4 linked regions of the Homo sapiens genome follow. The protein of the gene in region 1 interacts with the protein of each later gene in a pairwise test. Each region holds a gene or a part of one and is shown in the gene's direction. Other genes may lie near its edges.

Region 1 (7,328 bases):
TATTCCTCCGGGAGTCTCAGAAGTCATCAGCAGTGTCCTTTAGGTCCCTTTGTCAGTTGCCAGAACTGTCAAAAGACAAAATTACAATGAATTTAGTTTACAAATCTTTTTTTTTTTTTTTTTTGAGACAGAGTCTCTCTCCGTCGCCCAGGCTAGCATGCAGTGGCGCGATCTCAGCTCACTGCAACCTCCACCTCCCAGGTTCAAGCGATTCTCTTGCCTCAGCCTCCCAAGTAGCTGGGATTACAGGTGTACACCACCATGCCCAGCTAATTTTTGTATTTTAGTAGAGATGGGGTTTCACCATATTGGCCAGGCTGGTCTTGAACTCCTGACCTCAAGTGATCTGCCCGCCTCGGCCTTCCAAAGTGTTGGGATTATAGGCGTGAGCCACCGCACACGCCTTTTAGAAATTTTTTTTTTTTTGTTTTTTGAGACAGAGTTTCGCTCTTGTTGCCCAGGCTGGAGTGCAATGGCACGATCTCGGCTCACTGCAACCTCTGCCTCCCGGGTTCAAGCAATTCTCCTGCCTCAGCCTCCTGAGTAGCTGGGATTACAGGCATGCGCACCATGCTCAGCTAATTTTGTATTTTTAGTAGAGAGGGGGTTCTCCATGTTGGTCAGGCTGGTCTCGAACTCCCGACTTCAGGTGATCCGCCCACCTCGGCTTCCCAAAGTGCTGGGATTACAGGCTTGAGCCACTGCGCCCGGCCTCAGCTTTTATAAATCTTAATTGGCTTTTATTTTCTATTCTAGAATCGGGCAACATCTCATTCTATAGAGTGAGTGTTTTGATGAGCTGAGCAAAGGAGGTTGGGTTTGTAGATAGAAAAGGGCCAAGGAAAGTAGAAACAGAGAATACAAAGCAGATTGGTTGTTTCAGGTATTTTCCCTATAAAGGTCAAAGCAAAGGGGCCTTCCTTATCCTGCCAGCTAACACCAGTCTGTTTGAGGATTTGGCCATTATCTGTCTCTCCTGATTACTCAGAAGGTCAAATAAACTTAGTTTCAGCTTGGTCTTGTGGAAGGTGAGTAACTGCATTTTGGTTTGGTCTTTTGGGCATAGTAGAAGAGCTCAGTCCAAACCAATGGCCTCTTATAATTTAATTTTATTTATTTATTTACTTTTGAGACAGGGTCTCACTCTGTCATGAGGATGGCAGGTGCTACTTTGGAGTGCTGGAGTGCAGTGGTGCGGTCTCAGCTCACTGAAGCCTCAACCTTGTGGGCTCCGGTTTTAGGGTCAGTTTGTGCTGTGAGAGAGCGTGTGACCTTTTGGGACTACAGGCAGGTGTCACCACGCCCAGCTAATTTTTTGTATTTTTAGTAGATACGGGATGTCGCCAGGTTGCCCAGGCTGCCTCTTATTATTTATACTCCTGATTATAAAGTACAGGATTTCTGTCTATTTAGGTTTCCAATCCATTCAGATTTTTATGTTATAGATGATGACTGCTGCTATTAAGAAAATGAGGGCAAGAGTAAATATAGGCAGAGTCTCCAATACATCAGCAACCTGTTATTTGTAGTGATGATCTGTTAGGAAGGGCTAACCCATTTTCCTTCTTGAAAGGGAGGCTTACGAAAAGAAAAATAGGTCAGGTGTGGTGGTTCATGCTTGTAATCCCAAGCACTTTGGGAGGCTGAGGCAGGAGGATTACTTGAACCCGGGAGGTCAAGGCTAGTGTGAGTCATATTCCCACCACTGCACCCCAGCTCGGGCAAAAGAGCAAAACCCTGTCTCTATATAAATAAGTAACTCTAGGATTCCCAAATCTTGCAGATGAAGAAACCCCCTTCTCTTTTTTGGCTGGGGTGGGGAAGACTAGCCTGTTCTTTGTTTTCCTTGGGAAGTTACAGGATTACTGATGAACAAAATTACTGTTCAGGGAAGAGACATCCAGTGGCTTCTATGTCCAGGCCCATTCCCAGGAACCACATTTCCAGAGGGGCCTCAACCCCTGAGGCCTCAACTGGCCCCTTTCCAGGTATCCAAGAACAAATCACGAACAAGCAGTGGGAAACAAAAACCAGCCTGACCTCAGCACCTGCTCTCACCCCAAAGGGAGGTGAGGGCTGCTGGCATTGGTGGGTCCTGGGCCTAGCCTCTAGCCAGAGGATGTGGGGACCTCTCTTGGGGGCCTGCCCTTCCCACACCCCCTCTCCCAGCCAGGCTGTCTTGGACATTTCTGGGACTCCTCTGAGGGATCATGGTTCTTGCTCTGGGGTTTTCTTTTGTCATTTTAACACTGAGGCATCCCAGCCTCCCTTCCTGGAAGATGGAGTATTTGCACTGTTGCCTTTTCTTTTGTCCCTGTTTTTGTATAAAAATGACAATACTCTCCGTCGGACTGTATTTTAGCCCAAAAAACAAAACTAAACCCCTTTTTCTTTGATACTCCAGGTTCATAGAGCCAAGCCTATCAATTTTTTTCTTGTTCTTTGTTTTTTGGTTGGGGAAAGGGTTTTCTAAGAAATACTGAATTTTCCTTACCTAAAAGTAGTCCAGGTTAAACAAGTCAAACTTTAAATGTAATACCCATTGCTTTAAAATATTCTAGCAAAGAAAATAAGGTCTGGAAGATGGTGGTAGGGGATAGATGAAACAAGACTGAAAAGTGTTGACAATTTATGAAGTTCTGGAAATTCATTCTGCTCTTCTGTTTGACATTTTCCACAGTAAGGAGTTTTTAAAAATACTAGCTTTCTCTTATTTTTTACTCTAACAACTTCCTTTTGCTTGTCTTTGACAAGTCCTGGCTCAGGAGGAGAAAAGCTGCACAACCAGTCTTTGTGTATGTGTGTGCAAATCTCTGTGTGTTCACTTGTGAATACAGTTTCATTAGGGGAGGGTTCACCTTTGTTATGTATTATCAGTACATAATAAATATATATGTTTTCTTTTATTTTTTTAGAGACAGGGTTTCACTCTGTCACCCAGGCTGGAGTTCAGTGGTGGCAATCATAGCTTACCACAGCCTCTACCTTCTGGGCTGAAGCAATCGGCCTCCCAAGTAGCTGGGACTACAGGCCCACGCCATCACACCCAGCTTTATTTATTTTTTGTATAGACGGGGTCTCCCTATGTTGCCCAGGCTGGTCTGGAACTCTTGGGCTCCAGTGATCCTCTCACTTCAGCCTCCCAAAGCGCTGGGATTATAGGCATGAGCCACCACGCCAGGCCTATATTTCATTTTAAAACAACGAAGTTCTCCTTCCTCACATACCTCAAATTCGGGGGGTACCAAATCTCTGATATTATCCCAACGATTTTTTTATAACCAAGGTATCACAATTCCTTTCAGAAAGGGTTCTTTAGCCACTCACACCACGGGTTTCGGTGGCACAGCGCAGGGCAGCACAGACTTGTGCTACAGCTCTCGGCCCTACCCAGAGCAGGATGGCCCTAACCTAATTTTTTTGTTTGTTTGTTTGGAGATGGCGTCTCACTCTGTCGCCCAGGCTGCAGTGCGGTGGCACGATCTTGGCTCACTGCAACCTCCGCCTCCTGGGTTCAAGCGATTCTCCTGCCTCAGCCTCCTGAGTAGCTGGGATTACGGGCACCCGTCACCACACCCGGCTAATTTTTGTGTTTTTAGTAGAGACACAGTTTCACCATGTTGGCCAGGCTGGTCTTGAACTGCTGACCTCAGGTGATCCGCCCTACCTCGGCCTACTAAAGTGCTGGGATTACAGGCGGGAGCCACCGCGTCCGACCTAATTTTTTGTATTTTAGTAGAGACGGGATTTCACCGTGTTGCCTAGGTTGGTCTCGAACTCCTGACCTCAGGCAGTCCACCCGCCTCTGCCTGCCAAAGTGCTAGGATTACAAGAATGAGTCACTACGAATGAGTCACTGCGCCAGGCCCCTAGCCTCACTTACTTTGGGCCTCAGTTTCCACCGCCTGAAAAAAGAGCAGTTCGATTGCACCCACTTCCCCGGGCCCCGCCCAAACCATGGGCAGCCCCGCCCAAACCATGGGCAGCCCCGCCCAAACCATGGGCAGCCCCGCCCAAACCATGGGCAGCCCCGCCCAAACCATGGGCAGCCCCGCCCAAACCATGGGCAGCCCCGCCCAAACCATGGGCAGCCCCGCCCAAACCATGGGCAGCCCCGCCCAAACCATGGGCAGCCCCGCCCAAACCATGGGCAGCCCCGCCCAAACCATGGGCAGCCCCGCCCAAGGGCGGAGACTGGGCGGAGCGTCGCGCTCTCCTCCACCTCCTTCCGACTCTCGGAGGCCCCCCACCCAGTGCCCGCGGCGCATGTGCCAGGCACACCCCACCCCCAACCGGCCCTGGATTCCACTTCCGTTCCACCATCGCTGCTGGAGCAGCTGCCTTCAGGCCCTGCGCCGCCTCCGGAGTCCATGGCCGGCACGCGCTGGGTACTCGGGGCGCTGCTCCGGGGCTGCGGCTGTAACTGCAGCAGCTGCCGGCGCACCGGCGCCGCCTGCCTGCCCTTCTACTCCGCCGCTGGCTCTATCCCGTCGGGCGTCTCGGGCCGCCGCCGCCTGCTGCTGCTGCTCGGGGCCGCCGCGGCCGCTGCCTCCCAGACGCGTGGCCTCCAGACCGGGCCTGTGCCTCCCGGGAGGCTGGCGGGGCCTCCCGCTGTGGCCACCTCTGCCGCGGCCGCGGCCGCCGCGTCCTACTCTGCCCTCCGTGCCTCTCTGCTGCCGCAGTCGCTGGCGGCGGCGGCCGCCGTCCCGACGCGCAGCTACAGCCAGGTACGTGGGCGCCGTGAGGGACCTGGCGCGAGATCCCTCCCGGGCCGCGTGCACGCGCCCCCGCGCCCCTCCGTCCCTCCGTGTGCGCCTCGCGGGCACGCCCGGGGATCCGCGACACTCGCCGCACACCCGCCCCCGTCCACCCTGTGCTCCTATTGGGCCCTGGAACAAGGGAAGCTCTCCCAGGCGTCGGGTCTTCTGCTTGTTTTGTTCTCGCCTCGAGTCTCTGGTCGGTTGGGCAGTGTAAGTGTGGCTGGGGTGAATGTTGAGGCCTTGTTCCCCGCCTGGCCCATGGTAGGTTTCGTGAGGCTGCTGACGCCCCCACCTCGCATCTTCTTGCTTTCCGCCGGCTGGTTGTGAAGTTGCGAGGCCCGAGCCCGCCGGAGGGTTGGGAGTTTCCGTGCAGCCCGAGCGCTAGGCCTGGGCGGCCCTCGGCGCCTCTCGGTCGGCCGCTGCTGGGAAGGTGCGCGCACACAGTTGCGTGGGCTGGCTTGTAGGGAAGGAGCCTGTCCCCATCGCGCCGTTCCCTCTCCTGTCCCCAGGGAAAGACGAGCTGTCCCGGTTTACTGAAGGTCACCTCTGCAACTCCACTCATACAGAAGGTCTTTAAGGACTGTGTGTCGCCTCGTCTGGGAAAGCAGTTTGGAGATTTAGCTGTTGGGGGGAGGGGGTGAATGGGAGGGAGCGTTGAGGGTTGAGGACACAACTTGGGGTCCCAGGAATGAATTTGCAATGTTTTCCTTTCCATTTTTTCTTTATTTTTTTAGAAAAGTCGGTGTGTAGTTAGATTGCAAATATTTTGTGCTTTGTAGATGAACCTTTCTCTTCTTGGTACGTGGCATCTGGGAAGTGTCTGCACACTTTTTAACTACCCAGCCCCTGATTCCTTAGGTCATATTTATCTTAATTCAATTTGTGCTTCTCCTTTAACTTAGGGAGACTGGGAGGCTAATCAGCATGGCTGCTGTCTGCCAGTGGCTGAGCTAATTGATTTGAATCCTGGCCCAATACTTTACGCTGCCTTTTTCTGTAAAAGCTTGTGATGCTTATGGAATTATGGAAAAATGGGGAAAGTTGTCTACAAAAACCACAACAAAACCATCTCCAGTAAACCTTTGTGAGCTAGCTTCTCTCTTTTTTTTTCTATGAAATTGACTGCGGTGATATCTGTAGAGCATCTACTATGTGTTAGACACTGCTTACATTTATTCCTTAAAACTAAACATTAAGCCTTTTTTTTTTTTTTTTTTTGGAGACCGAGTCTCGCTCTGTCGCCCAGGCTGGAGTGCAGTGGAATGATCTCGGCTCACTGCAAGCTCCGCCTTCCGGGTTCACGCCATTCTCCTGCTTCAGCCTCCCGAGTAGCTGGGACTACAGGCGCCCGCCACTGCGCCCAGCTAATTTTTTGTATTTTTAGTAGAGACGGGGTTTCACCGTGGTCTCGATCTCCTGACCTCGTGATCCGCCCGCCTCTGCCTCCCAAAGTGCTGGGATTACAGGCGTGAGCCACCGCGCCCGGCCTAACATTAAGCCTTAATGAAAATTATAGATAGGGCTGGGCGCGGCACTTTGGGAGGCTGCGGCGGGTGGATCACCTGAGGTCAGGAGTTCGATAGCAGGCTAACCAACATGGTGAAACTCCGTGTCTACTAAAAAAATGCAAAAAAATTAGCCGGGCGGGGTGGCGGGCGCCTGTAATCCCAGCTACCCGGGAGGCTGAGGCAGGAGAATCCTTTGAACCCGGGGAGGTTGCAGTGAGCCGAGATTGTGCCATTATACTCTAGTCTGGGCGACAAGAGCGAAACTCCGTCTCAAGAAAAAAGAAAAGAAAAGAAAATGACAGATAGTAGAAAGATATCTCTGTCCTTAGTCCGGTAGAGTGCAAGTCTTTTTTTTTTTTTTTTTTTGAGACGGAGTCTTGCTCTGTTGCCCATGCTGGAGTGAAATGCCGAGATCTCAGCTCACTGAAACCTCTACCTCCCGGGTTCAGGCGATTATCCTGCCTCAGCCTCCCGAGTAGCTGGGATTACGGGCACACGCCACCACACCCGGCTCATTTTTTGTATTTTTAGTAGAGATGGGGTTTTGCCATGTTGGCCAGGCTGGTCTTGAACTCCTGACCTCGTGATTCGCCCACCTCGGCCTCCCAAGGTGCTGGGATTACAGGCGTGAGCCACCGCACCTGGCCCAGTAGAGTGCAAGTCTTAAAGCCTGAGTTGTCTTCTTAGGTTATGGTTGTAGTGCTTCGTGGATTCTTACTAAATTCCAGTTTTACTTAATCCGATAAAAGAGACTTTACAAGTCTGTAGCCTCACACTGCTGCCGTTGTCTTTAAGATCTTTCCCTTAATCACTTGGTCTGGCATACCAGCTGACAGAGGAATATTCCCAAGGCGTCCTGCTGTCTTGTTGATTTACCCAGTCCTCAGTGTCTTGTATTAACTTATCTTTGCCTACCAAGTGAAGGACACACATTGAGCTCCACACTCAAGGCCCTCTGCTCTATGGTACCAACCTCTTTTGCCAGGTCACCTTCTTTGGCTCCTAATTTAAACAGTTGGAATTAATTGCTGTTATTCAAATGGGCATTTGGTCGTACTGC
Region 2 (7,023 bases), on another chromosome or scaffold:
CGGACCTGGTTCAGTGACCAGATAGAGTGGAAGGAGCTGCCCTGAGGTACAGGAGACTTCCAATAGGCAGGTAAAAAGTGGTTATTAGAGTCTGGGTGCAGTGGCCTACACCTGTAAGCCCAGCGCTTTGGGAGGCCGAGGTGGGGCGGATCACTTGAGGTCAGGGGTTGGAGACCAGCCTGGGCAGCATGGCGAAACCCCGTCTCTACTAAAAATACAAAAACTAGCCGGACGTCATGGTACACGCATGTAATCCCAGCTACTGAGAAGCGCTTGAACCCGGGAGGCAGAGGTTGCAGTGAGCCAAGATCATACCACTGCACTCCAGCCTGGGCGACAGAGCAAGACTCTGTCTCAAGCTGGGCGTGGTGGCTCACGCCTGTAATCCCAGCACTTTGGGAGGCTGATGCGGGTGGATCACCTGAGGTCGGGAGTTTGAGACCAGCCTGACCAACATGGAGAAACCCCGTCTTTACTAAGAGTACAAAATTAGCCGAGCGTGGTGGCGCATGCCTGTAATTCCAGCTACTCAGGAGGCTGAGGCAGGATTGTTGCTTGAACCTGGGAGGCAGAGGTTGCAGTGAGCCAAGAGCGCATCATTGCACTCCGCTCCAGCCTGGGTTACAAGACTCTGTCTCAAAAAAAAAAAAAAGTGGGGGGTTATTAGAGAAGTCAGCCTTGACCGAAGTGAGTTGATCTGGTGTGTGAGTGTAAAGGGTAAGTCAGTGACCTGCCCGTAATGAACAGATGGGAAAGTAGTTACCGGCGTGCTTTGGCGAGTGGGAAGCCTCTTTGGGGGGCAGGAAAGAGGCAGTTTATGGGTTCCACTTTAGTAAGGAAACACGGACAAAGATCATAGTGGTTGTGAGCAGTCAACCAGGTCAGCCCCTGTGCTTTGTGGGCCTTAAATGATTACATCTTCATAACGGCCTAGTGAGGGAGGTATCCACATCCTCATTTTGGGGGCACGGAGGAGCTAAGCCTCTTGTGTGAGGTCCCACAGTCCATGCAAGGGTGTTATTCCATTCTAGAGTGTTTTGCTGTAGAGTTACTGCTTTTAACTGTTAGGCTTTTGAAGTAAAAACCACAGGTATCTTTGTGGGAGGAAAAAGACAGTAAAAACCAGAGAACTAGAAGTTATGCTGAGAAGTGGCCATCCTGGGTCCCAAGTCCACTTCTGTGGCCCTCCCTGGGCTTCAGTGTCAACTGATGACTTGCTTTCTTCCTTTTTTTTTTCCCCCTGAGATGAGATCTCACTATGTTGCTCAGGCTGGCATCAAACTCCTGGGCTCAAGCGATCCTCCCACCTCAGCCTCCCAGAGTGCTGGGATTACAGGCGTGAGCCACCATGCAGGGAAGAGGTTCCCTGTTTGTCTGGAAGACCCTCCTATGTGGCTGTGGGCGTGACTCTTCGTGTCCCCAGCATGGGGCCTGCCTCCTGCTGGCCCAGCACTTGGTTGTGGAGGGTCAGAGCTTGGGCACCTTGGGCCCCATCCTTAGGGGCCTCTACCTCCAGGTAGGAGCCTGGGGACCTCCAAGTCTCCTGGGGTGACTTGGGATTCAGGTCTGATGGCTCCCATGGAGGTGAATAGGGTGGGTGGTCTTTGGCAGTGGGTAGGGCTGAGGCCTTGACTTGTTCTCTTTCCCATTCTTAGGGCTGACAAAGAAGAGAACCAAAGTCCAGAAGAAGTCACTGCTTCTCAAGAAACCCCTTCGGGTTGACCTCATCCTCGAGAACACATCCAAAGTCCCTGCCCCCAAAGAGTGAGTGTCCCAGCATCCCTGGGCCCTTCTTTCCCACCAGACTCTGGTCCTAAAGGGTTTCCGGGGCTGGGGGCTGGTAGGTGAGGGTCATTTGAAGGGTAGGGCAGGCTCAGGTTTGGGCTTCGGAGTGCAGATTAGAGGGAGGGAGTCTGGGTGCCCTGGTGCTGGGCCGAGGCAGGTGAGGAGGGGCCTGGACCCAGCTGGGGGCTTCGGGGTTGGAGAGGAGGGGCTGAGTGGGAGGCGTGTTCAGGAGGCACATCAGGTGGGTCTTGGGGCATGAGCGGGTGAGAGGGTGGACAGCTGGCCTTCCCCTGAGATGGGGATGTGGAGGAGTGGGATTTCGGGTGATGCTGAGGTTGGTTTTGACGTGGTGGTGTGAGGTGCCTGGGGTATGTCCAGGACGGGGCTGTTGCTTCGTTGAGTCTGGGGCTCAGAGGGGAGGCCTAGGCTGGAGACAGACGTGGGGAGAGGAGTTCTCTGAAGAGGGGGCGGAGTGCCACCTTTTGGAGAGGGGGTGCTGAAGCTGCCTTAATGGTGGAGGAAGCCCGACGGGGAGGAGGCCCTGCTGCCGTTCAGGCTGCCACCTCACCTGCTGCACTTGTGCCCCCTCTCCCCGACCAGCGTCCTCGCCCACCAGGTCCCCAACGCCAAGAAGCTCAGGCGGAAGGAGCAGCTATGGGAGAAGCTGGCCAAGCAGGGCGAGCTGCCCCGGGAGGTGCGCAGGGCCCAGGCCCGGCTCCTCAACCCTTCTGCAACAAGGGCCAAGCCCGGGCCCCAGGACACCGTAGAGCGGCCCTTCTACGACCTCTGGGCCTCAGACAGTGAGTGATCCTGCTGTCACCTATGAATGGGGACAGGACGGCCATGTGCAGTTTGTGTGTGTTGTGCACTGCACGAGAGTACAGTGTGAAAGGGAGTGCTTTGTGGGTGCTTTGGTGACCTCCCAGCAGAGTCGTGCGTCCTGAAGGGGCGGCCGTTTCCCACTCGTGCTTTTCCTTTCCTGAGTTGTGAGGCTTCAGGAAAGGAAGCCTTCAGCTTTGGTCTCTTCCACTTTCTGAACCCGTCCAGACACAGTTTTGTCCTGGTGATCAAGGCCCTTGGGGTCTAGAATCAGTCCTTCCCTTGCCTGAGCTTCAGGGTCACCTTTTTGAAATGTGGAGGGATTGGGGGGGAGCCTTTGGTGCCTCTTCCATGCTGGGACTGTCCCAGCAGCTCCCCTCGCTGTATCCACAGACCCCCTGGACAGGCCGTTGGTTGGCCAGGATGAGTTTTTCCTGGAGCAGACCAAGAAGAAAGGAGTGAAGGTGAGATGTGTGGGAAGGGCATCCTGGGTGATGGGAGGGTGAGGAGGGCCGGGAGCTGCTCTGTGTTCCTGCAGTAGAGTCTGTCTCAGAGCCCTTCCATCCCAGTGGCCGAGAACTCTGTGCTGGAGCCAGGTGGCTGGGATTCCTGTCCCAGCTCCAGTGCTGACTGATCCTGGGAAGGTGGTCTCACCTTTCTGCAACCTATATCTTCCTCTAAAATGCAGATGAGGGCCGGGCATGGTGGCTCACGCCTGTAATCCCAGCACTTCGGGAGGCCGAGACAGGTGGATCACCTGAGGTCGGGAGTTTGAGACCAGCCTGACCAACGTGGTGAAACCCTGTCTCTACTAAAAATACAAAAAAAAAATTAGCTGGGCTTGGTGGCACGTGCCTGTAGTCCCAGCTATTAGGGAGGCTGAGGCAGGAGAATCGCTTGGACCAGGGAGGTGGAGGTGGCAGTGAGCCGAGATCATGCCACTGCACTCCAGCCTGGGCAACAAGAGCGAAACTCTGTCTCAAAAAAAAAAATAAAATAAAATACAGATGAAATTGTACTTAGATCATGGGTCGGTGGGGAGAATGTAAAGAGGTAGCACATGAGAAGGTGGAGCCCGTGCTGGCAAGTGGCAGAAGTGTCACGGGTTTGAGTTTGGATTTGCAGCCTCCTTCTTGAGCTGCTGGACCCCAAGTGTTAGAGCCCAGGTGCTTACAATCTCCGGGGCTCAGCCTCGTGGGTAGCAGAGGATAGGCTGCTATCCTTTTTCTGAGATGGAGTCTTGCTCTGGAGTCACCTGAATGCCCCTTGAGCTCTTCCCACACCCAACCACTGGCAAGGCCTGGAGCATCTGCCCCATGGCTGTGTCCTGGGTCACCCGCAGCCCCAACGCACGGCCTTACCCTGCCTCGGCCTTTTCTCCACAGCGGCCAGCACGCCTGCACACCAAGCCGTCCCAGGCACCCGCCGTGGAGGTGGCGCCTGCCGGAGCTTCCTACAATCCATCCTTTGAAGACCACCAGGTACACTGCCCCGTCCAGGCCTCCCTCCTCAGTGGGCTCTGCCTCTTGGTCAGGCCTTCACTAGCTTCCTCCCTGTGCTGGGAACTCCAATGACCCAGACAGCCCTGGGCCTGTCCGCAACGGGGCTCACGGTCCAGTGCAAGAGACCTGTTCCCAGACAGTGATGGGCAGAGTGGTTGGGGCTGGGAGCCCAGACGGGGCACCTGGCCCAGCCTGGGGGGTCAGGAAGGGCTCCCGGGAGGAGGGGTCGCCTGAGCCGAGGCAGAGGCTGAGGGAGGGGTTTGCAGTGGGAGGAGGGGAGTGGGTTTTCCAGGTGGTGGGAACAGCACTGCAAAGGCACAGAGTTGAGAGAGACCGTGGCGCCTTCCAGGAAGCCTGTGGGGCAGAGATGAAAAAGGCTGTGGTGACACGGTGGCACACTGGCAGCCAAGTGACAGTTATATATGGGCGAGGCTAGCTCAGCGATGGGAAAGTCTAGCTGGAGCCACTGTGCATTTAGCGGGCATCTGTTGAGCACAGATGCTGTGGACAAAGGGGACAAAAACCCCTCCCTTGGCCGGGTGCGGTGCCTCACACCTGTAATCCCAGCACTTTGGGAGGCTGAGGCGGGCAGATCATTGGAGGTCAGGAGTTGGAGACCAGCCTGACCAACATGGTGAAACCCTGTCTCTACTAAATACAGAAAATTAGCAGGGCATGGCAGCACGCATCTGTGGTCCCAACTGCTTGGGAGGCTGAGGTGGGAGGATTGCTTGAGCCCAGGAGGTCCAGGCTGCAGTGAGCTATGATCGCACCACGGCACTGCAGCCTGTGTAACAGAGCGAGACTCAAAAAACAAGCACAACCCTCCCTCAAGGAACAGCCCTTCTCATGGGGTCACGTGACTGGAGAGATGCTGAGATGTTTGCGGTAGATGCAGGACCGCTTGTCCGAATCGTTTTCAGCATTCATAAGAAGGAGATAGCTAGCCAGGAACAGAGGCAGCTTCCTCATCTGGTAGAGAAAAGTGTCTGCGGAAAAAAGCAACAGTGTGCTCATGGTTGAAAGCGTGAGGGTGCCGCTCACTGCCATCTGTTCCTGGACCAGATGTGGGAGGGGGCGTGGAGATCAGACATTCACTTTTAGATTTGTACAGAACTACTTCGTAGAGATAAAATTCACTTAACCATACGGTCAGCCTAGTTAGAGTATGTGATTCAGTGGCTTTTAGTGACCATTGTGTAACCATCCCCGCAGTCAATTTTAGAACATTTTCACTGTCCGTAAAGGAAACCTCACACATGTCAGCCATCACCCCCGCAATTCCCTGTCTCGTGTGGTCTTGGGCTGCCAGGCTTCCTGTCTCAGGGACCAGCCCACCCTGACCAATTCACATAGATGAAACTGTGGGCCGGGCATGGTGGCTCACACCTGTAATCCCAGCACTTTGGGAGGCCGAGGTAGGTGGACCACCTGAGGTCAGGAGTTCAAGACCAGCCTGACCAACATGGAGAAACCCCATCTCTACTAAAGTTACAGAATTAGCCGGGTATGGTGGCACATGCCTGTAATAGTAGCTACTCGGGAGGCTGAGGCAGGAGAATCGCTTGAACCCAGGAGGCGGGGGTTGTGGTGAGCTGAGATCACACCATTGCACTCCAGTCTGGGCAACAAGACAGAAACTCTATCTCAAAAAAAAAATGTGAAGCGTGCAGGTCAGACTGCCTTCACAGACGTGCAGAGCAGGTGTGAGGGCGAGGGTTTGAGGTGCCCTCTGGCTCTGTGCAGGGTGGGTGTGCTGGTAGACGGGGTGTGGGGAGGAAAGCCTGGGCCGGGGCGGGATCCACGGGCACTGGATGAGGGACAGATGGGAGGTAAGAGGGTCTAGTCTCAGTGTCCCAGGAGGGGTTCAGGGACCCATCCTCACTCCCGCCCCTCAGACCCTGCTCTCAGCGGCCCACGAGGTGGAGTTGCAGCGGCAGAAGGAGGCGGAGAAGCTGGAGCGGCAGCTGGCCCTGCCCGCCACGGAGCAGGCCGCCACCCAGGTGAGCCCCGCACCTGCCCACTCCCTCCCCTCCCCGGGCCTCCTACCCACCCCTGACACTGCACCCCGCCTCCCCAGGAGTCCACATTCCAGGAGCTGTGCGAGGGGCTGCTGGAGGAGTCGGATGGTGAGGGGGAGCCAGGCCAGGGCGAGGGGCCGGAGGCTGGGGATGCCGAGGTCTGTCCCACGCCCGCCCGCCTGGCCACCACAGAGAAGAAGACGGAGCAGCAGCGGCGGCGGGAGAAGGCTGTGCACAGGCTGGTGAGCGCCTGGGCCAGCGGGGCCTGCCTCTGATGCCTCGCCCCCTTCCTTCCTTCCTCCCACCATGGGCTGCCCTGGGTGCTGCGGGCAGCCTGCACACCCCAAGCCCCGCATGTGGCCTGTGGTTTGGGCTGTTTGGGATCCTCACAGCTGAGACTCATTTCCCAGCCTCTTCCAGGCAGGGCTCGGGCTGGGGTGGGACAGGGTCCCTGGCGCTTCTGTTTGAGGGGCGGGGTGGGGGGAGGTTTCTGCACCGCAGACCAGGGGAGATGGATGACAAAAGGGGCTTCAGCAAACAGCTGCTGGGAAGGCACTGGAGGGGCCGCTGATGTGACGGGGTTAGGAAGGGCCTCCGGGGACAGGCAGGTTTGTGCAGGGAAGGCTCCCTGTGTAGAGAGAAGGTCTCCCTGTGTGGGCAGCACCGGCCTGAGCCCTGACCCTCCCCCGTCTCCACAGCGGGTACAGCAGGCCGCGTTGCGGGCCGCCCGGCTCCGGCACCAGGAGCTGTTCCGGCTGCGCGGGATCAAGGCCCAGGTGGCCCTGAGGCTGGCGGAGCTGGCGCGGCGGCAGAGGCGGCGGCAGGCGCGGCGGGAGGCTGAGGCTGACAAGCCCCGAAGGCTGGGGCGGCTCAAGTGAGAACCAGGCCGGGGGTTC
Region 3 (7,023 bases), on another chromosome or scaffold:
AATGGAGTTTGTTTCCAGTGCAGAGAGGATAAACAAAAAAGAAGTCTGCCATTCAGTTTTATCGGAATAAGAGGGAAATAAACTCAGACAACAAAATTTTTAGTAATGAGATCAATGTGATTGGAGTCCCCCAAGTTTAAAAATAAAAGCTATTCAAATTTCTGCAAGAGGTGCCCTCCTTTGAAACTTGAGTAAGTCAGAACTGGGCTAGAAAATTAGTCACACTTCAACTTCCTGAGACCACTTCAAAAGTTTTTTTTTTTTTTCTTTTAAACCATTTGGGCTCCTTAGATTTTTCTCTTATTATTGTTCTGAAACAATCATGATAAAGATGAGGCTTGACAGATCTAAGTTTCTTTCCTTGGACATGTTCAAAGGCGGGGTCAAGGAATAAGGTCAATTTGAGGGTGAGGGTAACTCTGAAATGTACCCCTAGTTATGGGCTCTTTGCCTTTTCCTAAGGATTGTTTGAAATAAGACCATAAGATTAGGACACCAAAGTCCAATGAATCAAAATTGGCCAAAAAACAAACAAAAAATCTCCTTTTCCTAAATGATTATTCATTTTCCTGTTAAGCGTGAATATGCATTATTTCTTGACATGATGTTAATTCCAACGGTGTTTTTATTTGTAGGGTTTTATGAGCTGAGTGATGGGGCTTCAGGATCCCTTTCCAATTCCTCTAACTCGGTGTTCAGTGAGTGTTTATCCAGTTGTCATTCCAGCACCTGCTTTTGCAGCCCCTTGGAGGCGACCTTGAGTCTCTCAGATGGTTGCCCCAAATCTGCAGGTAAGAATTTTTAGCACTGATAGAAATTTTTAATTGGAAGGCATCAAGGGCCCTTAAAAGGTTATTTGGCTCCAGCACCTTTCACTGGTGGAAAAATGAAGGTTCATCACTTTGCGGCATTTAGTGCCATACTTACATCTAGAACTCAGTTTCATCTAGGTGAGTATCTAGAACTATTCCAGTACCCTTTGGGTGCTACTTGGTTATATATTTTGATAGCAGCAAGACACTTTATCTCTAGAAATCCTGTCCCAATATTGTAGGTCTTGAGCTCTGTTTCTGAGCCTTTGCTGTTAGGTTGTCTGTATTTTCTTTCATTTTGGAACTGTTTTCTTCTTTTAATTATGTAAAGCTAAAACTCAGCCAGGTGCAGTGGCTCACACCTGTAATCCCAGCACTTTGGGAGGCTTAGGCAGCTGGATCACCTGAGGTCAGGAGTTCAAGACCAGCCTGGGTTGGCCCGGTGCAGTGGCTCATGACTATAATCCTAGCACTTTGGGAGGCCAAGGTGGGTGGATCACTTGAGGTCAGGAGTTCAAGACCAGCCTGGCCAACATGGTGAAACCCCATCTCTACTAAAAATACAAAAATTAGCCGGGCATGGTGGCACATGCCTATAGTCCCAGCTACTCGGGAGGCTGAGGGAGAATTGCTTGAACCCAGGAGGTAGAGGTCATAGTGAGCCGAGATTGGACCACTGTACTCCAGCCTGGGCGGCAGAGAGAAAAAAAAAACAAAAAACAAAAGACCAGCCTGGGCAACATGATGAAACCCTGTCTCTACTAAAAACACAAAAATCGGCCGGGTGTGGCAGCATGTGCCTGTAATCCCAGCTACTTGAGAGGCTGAGGCAATAGAATCACTTGAACCCCAGAGGCGGAGGTTGCAGTGAGCCGAGATTGTGCCACTGCACTCCAGCCTGGGCAACAGAGTGAGGCTCCATCTCAATCAATCAATCAGTCTAACACTCACATTAAGTTAAATATGTCCATCAGCCTGGCCAAGAACTGGTTGGCACTTCAGGGAGCAATGGCCCTTTCATGTTCTCCAGAATGTTCTGCATGATGGCAGCTTGTTTTTTCTTTTAAGTGGGTGCCCACATGCCATTATTCCTTATTTTGGGATATCTTTGCAATGACCCCCAGAAGGAATCATGCTATTGTACTAGAAGAGTTTCTGCATTTCCAGTATGTGTCACACACTACTGGATGCTCTGTATGTATTTATCTCCAATGAATCCTCCCAATAGTCGTGCACAGTACAGGTCTTGTTAGCTCCATTTTATGTATTAAAAAAATGAGTCCTAGTAAGGTTACATATGTTATTTAAGGCTCTATAGATGGTGAGTGGCAGAGGCAGAAGTTAAGCTCAGGCCTAACTGCCAGGTCCACGTTTTTCATCATCCCAAGGGAATTCAGAAATTGTTGTTTTCAACCTTCTCATCTAACAGAAGAGGAATTTTGGCTTATAAGCTAATTGTCAGAGGTTCTCCATCTGCTGAATGGCAGGGTTGCTGCTGGAACTCAAGACTCCTTCCTTAGTCCTGTTACATTGTGAATTCTTATAAGAGTAGAGAAAATATGAAGATTAGAATTGCTCTGGGTCCTGGGCACAAGTCATCACACTCCTGGTTTGTCTGTGTTCTCCACTTGGGTATAAGCCTGAATTTTTGAGTCCAGGCAAGGCAAACAACACTGAGCAGCTGAGGGAGCTAATTGGCTGGTGTCTTCATATCTGTGTGTTGTCAGCAGCAATCATTTGAGGAAGCACAGAACTGTGTTATCTAGAGGGTCTGGGCCTCAAGTTCATTGGTAATTGCTCCCCTTCATTCCACAGATCTGGTTTCAGAGGGAAACTTTATAAACCCATTAAAGGCACTTTGGTTTAGGTTTTCCTTCAAGACAGACCCGTGCTCTTCCAAATGCCACTTCCTCACATAATTGAGACAGTTGCACCAGGCCTTGGGGGCTAGGATATCTGTTTTGTTCAACTCTAAAGAGGGAAAAGGGATGAATAGTGAAGTGTTTGTCAGTGTGGCTTTAAGTAAGGCAAAGATAGGGCTTACGTTGCTGGGAGAGGAAGGATGGGGAAGGATGTTAGCTAGAGAGGTTTCCTTTTAGAACAAGCTCTTTATTGGGGGGGGTCATGTGGGTGGGGACATGGCACTTTTGTTTTATTATGTTTTCTTTACATATCATCTCTGGGTCTAGACTATTTTTTCCCTGAGACCGCTAATTATCATTGAAGTTTATGGAGCTTTCTCAACATAGAATCAGGCACATATAGGTTCTCAGTATTTGAATGAATAAATACAATGGAGGACAAATTATTACTGATAAACTCAACTTTAATTTTCTCTGATAACTGAAGGTCATTAAATGGATTTGTTATTTATAATATTCACCAACTTAAGAGATCAAAATCCTTTAAGACAGCAAGCTTGATTTTGCTGTACTTTGGCATCTACATTTTCAAGATATGGGAAATTTATCCATTAATATTACCACATGATCTTTTAAAATATTACCAAGAATTCTTTATCCTATTAAAAAAACATTTTTGACAAGTGGGAAATTTATCCATTAATACTACCACTCAATCTTTTAAAATCTTATCAAGAATTCTTTATCATATTAAAAAAGTTTTTTTAAATTAAAAATTTTGTTGTAGAGAGATGGAGTCTCACTGTTGCCCAGGCTGGTCTCGAACTCCTGGGCCTAAGCGATCCTCTGGCCTCAGCCTTTTGGTGTTAGGATTGCAGGCGTGAGCCATCATACCTGGCCCCTGTTTTATTTTTTTAGCATCACTATTGAAAACATAAGGCGATTATTATTTAAATCTGATCAGTTTTTACTGAAGTTTGATCAGTTTCCATCACCTTTCAATTGACAGTTATATTTGAATGGATGTCATTAAGAATTAGGTTTAAAAAAACACAAAATGAGGAGAAAGCCTACTGAACGTACAGTTTATCCTAAAGAAAGCCAGGAATAGAACAGAGGGGAGAGCAGCCTAGAGAAACAGTGATTCAAAAAATGTTTCCCAGTTGTAAACGCAGTACAGACAGTTTAACAGAAAATAAAGAAGAAAGTAAATATCACTTACTTCTGATCATTCTGAAATACTACTACTAGAATCTTGGTGTGCTTCATCTCAGATGTTTTTTCTTTGCATACATGTGATCCTAATAAGATTATAATCATATTCTAGTATTATATCATGATTTTCACTAAACTTTAAAGTGTTTTCCCTCTATTATGCAGTAGTTTGAAAACACTCTTAATGGCTGAATTTTTTTCCTTCAGAGGATATATCATATGCTGTCAAAAATTTTTGTTAAATATTTCCCCCTCATCCAGTAGCAGTACCTACATGTGAAATGGTAGGGCAGCACTTTTTAATCCTTGGCAATCTCTTTTTACCCATGGATTTTTCATAAAAATTGGCCAAAGAGTCAAGCTGGTGCTGACCAATTCATTTCTTCAGAGTGTACCTTTAACTGTTTTTCAGATCTCATAGGATTGTTGGAATATAAAGAAGGCCACTGTGAAGACCAGGCCTCAGGGGCAGTTTGCCGTTCCCTCTCCACACCACAATTTAATTCCCTTGATGTCATTGCAGATGTGAATCCCAAGTACCAGTGTGATCTGGTGTCTAAAAACGGGAATGATGTATATCGCTATCCCAGTCCACTTCATGCTGTGGCTGTGCAGAGCCCAATGTTTCTCCTTTGTCTGACGGGCAACCCTCTGAGGGAAGAGGACAGGCTTGGAAACCATGCCAGTGACATTTGCGGTGGATCTGAGCTAGATGCCGTCAAAACAGACAGTTCCTTACCGTCCCCAAGCAGTCTGTGGTCTGCTTCCCATCCTTCATCCAGCAAGAAAATGGATGGCTACATTCTGAGCCTGGTCCAGAAAAAAACACACCCTGTAAGGACCAACAAACCAAGAACCAGCGTGAACGCTGACCCCACGAAAGGGCTTCTGAGGAACGGGAGCGTTTGTGTCAGAGCCCCGGGCGGTGTCTCACAGGGCAACAGTGTGAACCTTAAGAATTCGAAACAGGCGTGTCTGCCCTCTGGCGGGATACCTTCTCTGAACAATGGGACATTCTCCCCACCGAAGCAGTGGTCGAAAGAATCAAAGGCCGAACAAGCCGAAAGCAAGAGGGTGCCCCTGCCAGAGGGCTGCCCCTCAGGCGCTGCCTCCGACCTTCAGAGTAAGCACCTGCCAAAAACGGCCAAGCCAGCCTCGCAAGAACATGCTCGGTGTTCCGCCATTGGGACAGGGGAGTCCCCTAAGGAAAGCGCTCAGCTCTCAGGGGCCTCTCCAAAAGAGAGTCCTAGCAGAGGCCCTGCCCCGCCGCAGGAGAACAAAGTTGTACAGCCCCTGAAAAAGATGTCACAGAAAAACAGCCTGCAGGGCGTCCCCCCGGCCACTCCTCCCCTGCTGTCTACAGCTTTCCCCGTGGAAGAGAGGCCTGCCTTGGATTTCAAGAGCGAGGGCTCTTCCCAAAGCCTGGAGGAAGCGCACCTGGTCAAGGCCCAGTTTATCCCGGGGCAGCAGCCCAGTGTCAGGCTCCACCGGGGCCACAGGAACATGGGCGTCGTGAAGAACTCCAGCCTGAAGCACCGCGGCCCAGCCCTCCAGGGGCTGGAGAACGGCTTGCCCACCGTCAGGGAGAAAACGCGGGCCGGGAGCAAGAAGTGTCGCTTCCCAGATGACTTGGATACAAATAAGAAACTCAAGAAAGCCTCCTCCAAGGGGAGGAAGAGTGGGGGCGGGCCCGAGGCTGGTGTTCCCGGCAGGCCCGCGGGCGGGGGCCACAGGGCGGGGAGCAGGGCGCATGGCCACGGACGGGAGGCGGTGGTGGCCAAACCTAAGCACAAGCGAACTGACTACCGGCGGTGGAAGTCCTCGGCCGAGATTTCCTACGAAGAGGCCCTGAGGAGGGCCCGGCGCGGTCGCCGGGAGAATGTGGGGCTGTACCCCGCGCCTGTGCCTCTGCCCTACGCCAGCCCCTACGCCTACGTGGCTAGCGACTCCGAGTACTCGGCCGAGTGCGAGTCCCTGTTCCACTCCACCGTGGTGGACACCAGTGAGGACGAGCAGAGCAATTACACCACCAACTGCTTCGGGGACAGCGAGTCGAGTGTGAGCGAGGGCGAGTTCGTGGGGGAGAGCACAACCACCAGCGACTCTGAAGAAAGCGGGGGCTTAATTTGGTCCCAGTTTGTCCAGACTCTGCCCATTCAAACGGTAACGGCCCCAGACCTTCACAACCACCCCGCAAAAACCTTTGTCAAAATTAAGGCCTCACATAACCTCAAGAAGAAGATCCTCCGCTTTCGGTCTGGCTCTTTGAAACTGATGACGACGGTTTGAGTGACATCATTGGTGTAGAAAGTTTGTGTGTTTTTTTTTCTTCTCCCTAGTTGCCAAAATTAAAAAGGTGGTGTTTTCATTTTTGTATAATACTTTAATGGAATGCTTTTTAAAAAAATATAAAACCAAGGTAAATTATTGTTTCATCTTCACGTATGGATGCTAGTGCCTTTAATGGAAGGTAAAGAATGTTTTGCTAGTTAGAAGTACATATTGAGGTTTTAATGGTGGTGATAGTGAGTTTTGTGGCACCAGCTGTTTTTTATTTTAAACTTTCTGAGCATCCGGCAAGGTACAGGTTTTGATGTTCAAGTTTTATTGGGATAAGATCTTTTGATCCCAAGGTCAGGTGGATGGAATTTTTGGATTTATATTTGTTCCTTGAGTCTTCAGGGCAGTGTCTCCATGAGGGTTTTCCTGTTGAGGGGCACCACATACAATAGTGTGAAGTAGGTATGAGGGGCAGTCATTGTATTCTATAGTTTTTTTATGTAGTCTACATTTCTCAGATGTATCCCCATTCGGTTTTATTCTCAGAACTGTTACTAGACTCATGACTTGGAGGCCAAACCTTAAATCCAGAGATAGCAGCCTCGATAGGGACCTTAAAAGGATTCACAAAAACTTTTGCCACACTTGGTGCCTAGGCCCTGTTCCTAATAACCCCTTCTAGGGCCGTTTATCCAACATTTAGATGCCTTCTTTTCCCTCCCTAATTTGTAGCCAGTCCAACCTTTCATTCCTTGGAGGATTTAGTTTTGGGATAAAATTTTGGTCCTTGGGCACAGAGACATTCACTATTAATGAAGTAACCCTTGGGCATGACTCCAATCCCAGAATTGCTC
Region 4 (7,023 bases), on another chromosome or scaffold:
CTTTGTTCTGATTTGTTATTCTTATTTATGATTTTCTCATATTTATAGTTTGTCATTCTTCTATAAATATGGTTTTGTTATAGTTACTTTGAATTCTTTGTAGCACCAAGTAGAAAAGGCACACAAAAGGAGTGAACTTAGAGGATATGCTTTTTAGCTAAAAGATCAAATCACCTGCTCCTCCAAAGCATATCACAGTGTCCGAGGGCCCTGCCCTTTAAGAGACAATTATTTGAGTCTTAAAGACTTGTTCGTCTTCTGAGCACCTGCAAAAATGTAGTAAGTGGCATTTTCAAGTCTGTATCATCACACACCTAGTGAAACGAAGAGTGTGAGCATGAGGGGAGCCTGAGGGCAGGATGCCGGGGGTAGGGCATGCTCACAGGAGAAAAAGCAAGCACAGAGATGCTCATCACTCACCCAGGGCCTCGCCAAGGGATGCCAGGGGATGGACACCTGAGAAGGGGCTGGGGAACAAACTCTGGCCATGGGAGGCCTGGGTCCAGGTGGCAACACTGCCTGTTAGCAACACGGGACCTTCAGTAAGCCATCTTCATGATGTCCAAAGTCAGGTGGTTGGGTGAGATGGAGTCCATGGTGACTCCAGCCTTGGGATTCCGACCCTGTTCCTGGGGAGGAGGGCCCTGAGGATGCACCTGAGCCCAGGAAGCTGAGACTGCCCTGCTTGCAGCTGGCCCTAGGAGGAGGCACACACTTGGGGCTATATGCAGACCAACTTTGCTCCTCCACTTGAGGGCAATGATCCCCATATTTCCATGGCATCCCCAGGGCACTGACTGGACAAGGAAAGGCTGCAAAGCCAGAGGAACCTTCCAGAATGATCCTCCTGGCAATTGCTTGGATCAAGCAAATGGTCACAGCTGTGTCAGATTGTAAGTTCTCACAGGCTGTGGCAGTAGTTTGCAGTTTTGTCTTCAAACATGGGCTGGGGTGCGGGTTAGCAATGGGGTAAAAAGCAGTGAATGATGTCCCTTGTGGACACTTTCAGAACCCAGGGCCAGAGAGAAATACTAACCTGAGAATAATCTACCCCTTGGAAAACTCACCCCTGAATAAACCACAGGCACTTCCCTCCTGCACCAGCCATGGCCCCATCCAGAGTTCACCCAGCAGCATCTGCATCTCCAATGTCATTGGGCCCACTGCAGCTCCGAGGCACAGTCGAGGCAGGATTTGTTATCTGTTTTACCGATTAGGCAACTGAGGCTTAGAGAGCTTAGACCCACTCAGAGTGGATCACAAAACAGAGATGAGAGCCCAGGCCTCTGTCCCTAACCACCCTGCAGTTCCCAGAGCCCACTTTGCCTTCTGTTCTCAGCATCCCACATGGCCACAGTCCTCAGAAACACACTGGCATTCAGGTCACCCAACACTGACATGGGAGCGGGGGAGGAAAGAATTGCAGGGCTTGGACATGTGGAGCCGGAGCCTGTGGTTCTGCTTGAGTTTCCCTGGTTAACTTTTGAGGGGTCTCAGCCAGGTGTGGCACCGAGTCTGGGCTGCCCAGGCTGTGCATGAGTCCCAGTAACTCTGTCTTCTCTTTTGTGTGTGTGTATTTCTGTGTGTGTGTACATCTATCACACAGAAGAAGAGCGTGATTTCTCCTCCAAGGCCGTTGATCTCCAACCCAGAACTAAAGGGGAGAAGAGCCACCCCCAGCATCCAGCGTGGCATCTCTTGTGCCAGGACCAGGGATGACTGGGCCATGGACACAGATGTCTCCAACCTTCAACCGTTTGCATAGCACACGGGGGACTCGTGGGGGCCACCTGCCACTGCCAGCTGAAACAATACAATGGCAATACTGACATCCTTCATGACGTTTTCCCGACAGACATTCAGGCAGAAAGTGCTGGTGCGTTTTCTGTCTGCAAAGTAGAGGGCCATGCCTCACCAATAGAATAGCGTGGGCCCTGATGACCTGCTCCGAGTCCACTCACAGCCAGTGACACTTGCAAAAAACTCCCAAAGCCGTCTTGGGTTTGGCTCCCACAGCTCTTGACCAATGTGGCCAAAGCTGGACACCTCCTTGGGACACTGGGATTATTCATAAATGCAGCCCGCCCTGACTCTCCCTGAATAGCATCTGAAGTCTTTGTGAAGGTCATGGATCCTGAACAAAGTGTCAAGGGCACCAAGAAGGCTGAGGGAAGTCCCCGGAAGCGGCTGACCAAAGGAGAGGCCATTCAGACCAGTGTTTCTTCCAGCGTCCCATACCCAGGCAGCGGCACAGCTGCCACCCAAGAGAGCCCCGCCCAAGAGCTCTTAGCCCCGCAGCCCTTCCCGGGCCCCTCATCAGTTCTTAGGGAAGGCTCTCAGGAGAAAACGGGCCAGCAGCAGAAGCCCCCCAAAAGGCCCCCCATCGAAGCATCCGTCCACATCTCACAGCTTCCGCAGCACCCTCTGACACCAGCATTCATGTCGCCTGGCAAACCTGAGCATCTCCTGGAGGGGTCCACATGGCAACTGGTTGACCCCATGAGACCTGGACCCTCTGGCTCCTTCGTGGCCCCTGGGCTCCATCCTCAGAGCCAGCTCCTTCCTTCCCACGCTTCCATCATTCCCCCCGAGGACCTTCCTGGAGTCCCCAAAGTCTTCGTGCCTCGTCCTTCCCAGGTCTCCTTGAAGCCCACAGAAGAGGCACACAAGAAGGAGAGGAAGCCCCAGAAGCCAGGCAAGTACATCTGCCAGTACTGCAGCCGGCCCTGTGCCAAGCCCAGCGTGCTCCAGAAGCACATTCGCTCACACACAGGTGAGAGGCCCTACCCCTGCGGCCCCTGTGGCTTCTCCTTCAAGACCAAGAGTAATCTCTACAAGCACAGGAAGTCCCATGCCCACCGCATCAAAGCAGGCCTGGCCTCAGGCATGGGTGGCGAGATGTACCCACATGGGCTGGAGATGGAGCGGATCCCTGGGGAAGAGTTTGAGGAGCCCACTGAGGGAGAAAGCACAGATTCTGAAGAGGAGACTAGTGCCACCTCTGGTCACCCTGCAGAGCTCTCCCCAAGACCCAAGCAGCCCCTTCTCTCCAGCGGGCTATACAGCTCTGGGAGCCACAGTTCCAGCCACGAACGCTGTTCCCTGTCCCAGTCCAGCACAGCCCAGTCACTCGAAGACCCCCCTCCATTTGTGGAACCCTCATCTGAGCACCCCCTGAGCCATAAACCTGAAGACACCCACACGATTAAGCAGAAGCTGGCCCTCCGCTTAAGCGAGAGGAAGAAGGTGATCGATGAGCAGGCGTTTCTGAGCCCAGGCAGCAAAGGGAGTACTGAGTCTGGGTATTTCTCTCGCTCCGAGAGTGCAGAGCAGCAGGTCAGCCCCCCAAACACCAACGCCAAGTCCTACGCTGAGATCATCTTTGGCAAGTGTGGGCGAATAGGACAGCGGACCGCCATGCTGACAGCCACCTCCACCCAGCCCCTCCTGCCCCTGTCCACCGAAGACAAGCCCAGCCTGGTGCCTTTGTCTGTACCCCGGACGCAGGTGATCGAGCACATCACGAAGCTCATCACCATCAACGAGGCCGTGGTGGACACCAGCGAGATCGACAGCGTGAAGCCAAGGCGGAGCTCACTGTCCAGGCGCAGCAGCATGGAGTCCCCAAAATCCAGCCTCTACCGGGAGCCCCTGTCATCCCACAGTGAGAAAACCAAGCCTGAACAATCACTGCTGAGCCTCCAGCACCCGCCCAGTACCGCCCCCCCTGTGCCTCTCCTGAGAAGCCACTCAATGCCTTCTGCCGCCTGCACTATCAGCACCCCCCACCACCCCTTCCGAGGTAGCTACTCCTTCGATGACCATATCACCGACTCCGAAGCCCTGAGCCACAGCAGTCACGTGTTTACCTCCCACCCCCGGATGCTGAAGCGCCAGCCGGCAATCGAATTACCTTTGGGAGGGGAATACAGTTCTGAGGAGCCTGGCCCAAGCAGCAAAGACACAGCCTCCAAGCCCTCGGACGAAGTGGAACCCAAGGAAAGCGAGCTTACCAAAAAGACCAAGAAGGGTTTGAAAACAAAAGGGGTGATCTACGAATGTAACATATGTGGTGCTCGGTACAAGAAAAGGGATAACTACGAAGCCCACAAAAAATACTACTGCTCAGAGCTTCAGATCGCAAAGCCCATCTCTGCAGGCACCCACACATCTCCAGAAGCTGAAAAGAGTCAGATTGAGCATGAGCCGTGGTCCCAAATGATGCATTACAAACTGGGAACCACCCTGGAACTCACTCCACTGAGGAAGAGGAGGAAAGAGAAGAGCCTTGGGGACGAGGAAGAGCCACCTGCCTTTGAGTCCACAAAAAGTCAGTTTGGCAGCCCCGGGCCATCTGATGCTGCTCGGAACCTTCCCCTGGAGTCCACCAAGTCACCAGCAGAACCAAGTAAATCAGTGCCCTCCTTGGAGGGACCCACGGGCTTCCAGCCAAGGACTCCCAAGCCAGGGTCCGGTTCAGAATCAGGGAAGGAGAGGAGAACAACGTCCAAAGAAATTTCTGTCATCCAGCACACCAGCTCCTTTGAGAAATCTGATTCTCTCGAGCAGCCGAGTGGCTTGGAAGGGGAAGACAAACCTCTGGCCCAGTTCCCATCACCCCCACCTGCCCCACACGGACGCTCTGCTCACTCCCTGCAGCCTAAGTTGGTCCGCCAGCCCAACATTCAGGTTCCTGAGATCCTAGTAACTGAGGAGCCTGACCGGCCGGACACAGAGCCAGAGCCGCCCCCTAAGGAACCTGAGAAGACTGAGGAGTTCCAATGGCCCCAGCGCAGCCAGACACTTGCCCAGCTCCCAGCTGAGAAGCTGCCACCCAAAAAGAAGAGGTTGCGCCTGGCAGAGATGGCCCAATCATCAGGGGAGTCCAGCTTCGAGTCCTCTGTGCCTCTGTCTCGCAGCCCGAGCCAGGAAAGCAATGTCTCTTTGAGTGGGTCCAGCCGCTCAGCCTCGTTTGAGAGGGATGACCATGGGAAAGCCGAGGCCCCCAGTCCCTCATCTGACATGCGCCCCAAACCCCTGGGCACCCACATGTTGACTGTCCCCAGCCACCACCCACATGCCCGAGAGATGCGGAGGTCAGCCTCAGAGCAGAGCCCCAACGTTTCCCATTCTGCCCACATGACCGAGACACGCAGCAAATCCTTTGACTATGGCAGCTTGTCCTTGACAGGCCCTTCTGCTCCAGCCCCAGTGGCTCCACCAGCGCGGGTGGCCCCGCCAGAGAGAAGAAAATGCTTCTTGGTGAGACAGGCCTCTCTGAGCAGGCCTCCAGAATCTGAGTTGGAGGTTGCCCCCAAGGGAAGACAGGAGAGCGAAGAACCACAGCCCTCATCCAGTAAACCCTCTGCCAAAAGCTCATTGTCCCAGATTTCCTCTGCGGCCACCTCACATGGTGGACCCCCGGGAGGCAAGGGCCCAGGGCAGGACAGGCCCCCATTGGGGCCCACTGTGCCCTACACAGAAGCACTGCAAGTGTTCCACCACCCCGTTGCCCAGACACCCCTGCATGAGAAGCCATACCTGCCCCCACCAGTCTCCCTTTTCTCCTTCCAGCATCTCGTGCAGCATGAGCCAGGACAGTCTCCAGAATTCTTCTCCACCCAGGCCATGTCCAGCCTCCTGTCCTCACCATACTCCATGCCCCCACTTCCTCCCTCCTTATTTCAAGCCCCACCGCTTCCTCTCCAGCCTACTGTTCTGCACCCAGGCCAACTCCATCTCCCCCAGCTCATGCCTCACCCAGCCAACATCCCCTTCAGGCAGCCCCCTTCCTTCCTCCCCATGCCATACCCGACCTCCTCAGCACTGTCTTCTGGGTTTTTCCTGCCTCTGCAATCCCAGTTTGCACTTCAGCTCCCTGGTGATGTGGAAAGCCATCTGCCCCAGATCAAAACCAGCCTGGCCCCACTGGCAACAGGAAGTGCTGGCCTCTCCCCCAGCACAGAGTACAGCAGTGACATCCGGCTACCCCCTGTGGCTCCCCCAGCCAGCTCCTCAGCACCTACATCAGCTCCTCCACTGGCCCTGCCTGCCTGTCCAGACACCATGGTGTCCCTGGTTGTGCCTGTCCGTGTTCAGACCAATATGCCGTCCTATGGGAGCGCAATGTACACCACCCTTTCCCAGATCTTGGTCACCCAGTCCCAAGGCAGCTCAGCAACTGTGGCACTTCCCAAGTTTGAGGAACCCCCATCAAAGGGGACGACTGTATGTGGTGCAGATGTGCATGAGGTTGGGCCCGGCCCTTCTGGGTTAAGTGAAGAGCAAAGCAGAGCTTTCCCAACTCCATACCTGAGAGTGCCTGTGACATTACCTGAAAGAAAAGGCACTTCCCTGTCATCAGAGAGTATCTTGAGCCTGGAGGGGAGTTCATCAACAGCAGGGGGAAGCAAACGTGTCCTTTCACCAGCTGGCAGCCTTGAACTTACCATGGAAACCCAGCAGCAAAAAAGAGTGAAGGAGGAGGAGGCTTCCAAGGCAGATGAAAAACTTGAGCTGGTAAAACCATGCAGTGTGGTCCTTACCAGCACCGAGGATGGGAAGAGGCCAGAGAAATCCCACTTAGGCAACCAGGGCCAAGGCAGGAGGGAGCTAGAAATGCTGTCCAGCCTGTCCTCAGATCCATCTGACACAAAGGAAATTCCTCCCCTCCCTCACCCTGCATTGTCCCATGGGACAGCCCCAGGCTCAGAAGCTTTGAAGGAATATCCCCAGCCATCTGGCAAACCTCACCGAAGAGGGTTGACCCCACTGAGCGTGAAGAAAGAAGATTCCAAGGAACAACCTGATCTCCCCTCCTTGGCACCTCCGAGCTCTCTGCCTCTGTCAGAAACGTCCTCCAGACCAGCCAAGTCACAAGAAGGTACGGACTCAAAGAAGGTACTGCAGTTCCCCAGCCTCCACACAACCACTAATGTCAGTTGGTGCTATTTAAACTACATTAAGCCAAATCACATCCAGCATGCAGATAGGAGGTCCTCTGTTTACGCTGGTTGGTGCATA

Evidence for each region.
Region 2: the proteins of GRSF1 (region 1) and NOP53 interact in a two-hybrid assay, tested with the Homo sapiens proteins (one study listed by BioGRID).
Region 3: the proteins of GRSF1 (region 1) and DACT1 interact in a two-hybrid assay, tested with the Homo sapiens proteins (one study listed by BioGRID).
Region 4: the proteins of GRSF1 (region 1) and HIVEP3 interact in a two-hybrid assay, tested with the Homo sapiens proteins (one study listed by BioGRID).

What each region holds. Positions count from the first base shown.
Region 1 is NC_000004.12:70,836,870-70,844,197, reverse strand, and holds the start of GRSF1 (G-rich sequence factor 1), read left to right. Parts: upstream 1-4,307; 5' UTR 4,308-4,370; coding exon 4,371-4,727; intron 4,728-4,936; exon of another isoform or gene 4,937-5,018; coding exon of another isoform or gene 5,019-5,021; intron 5,022-5,052; exon of another isoform or gene 5,053-5,206; intron 5,207-7,328. UniProt on the Homo sapiens protein: Regulator of post-transcriptional mitochondrial gene expression, required for assembly of the mitochondrial ribosome and for recruitment of mRNA and lncRNA. Binds RNAs containing the 14 base G-rich element.
Region 2 is NC_000019.10:47,748,523-47,755,545, forward strand, and holds part of NOP53 (ribosome biogenesis protein NOP53), read left to right. Parts: intron 1-1,655; coding exon 1,656-1,764; intron 1,765-2,385; coding exon 2,386-2,585; intron 2,586-2,997; coding exon 2,998-3,068; intron 3,069-3,989; coding exon 3,990-4,085; intron 4,086-6,004; coding exon 6,005-6,109; intron 6,110-6,186; coding exon 6,187-6,369; intron 6,370-6,825; coding exon 6,826-7,001; intron 7,002-7,023. UniProt on the Homo sapiens protein: Nucleolar protein which is involved in the integration of the 5S RNP into the ribosomal large subunit during ribosome biogenesis. In ribosome biogenesis, may also play a role in rRNA transcription.
Region 3 is NC_000014.9:58,640,957-58,647,979, forward strand, and holds part of DACT1 (dapper homolog 1), read left to right. Parts: intron 1-635; coding exon 636-791; intron 792-4,301; coding exon of another isoform or gene 4,302-4,412; coding exon 4,413-6,178; 3' UTR 6,179-7,023.
Region 4 is NC_000001.11:41,579,902-41,586,924, reverse strand, and holds part of HIVEP3 (transcription factor HIVEP3), read left to right. Parts: intron 1-1,606; coding exon of another isoform or gene 1,607-1,619; 5' UTR 1,620-2,127; coding exon 2,128-7,023. Other genes in the region: uncharacterized LOC128125817, read left to right, coding at 1,607-1,619.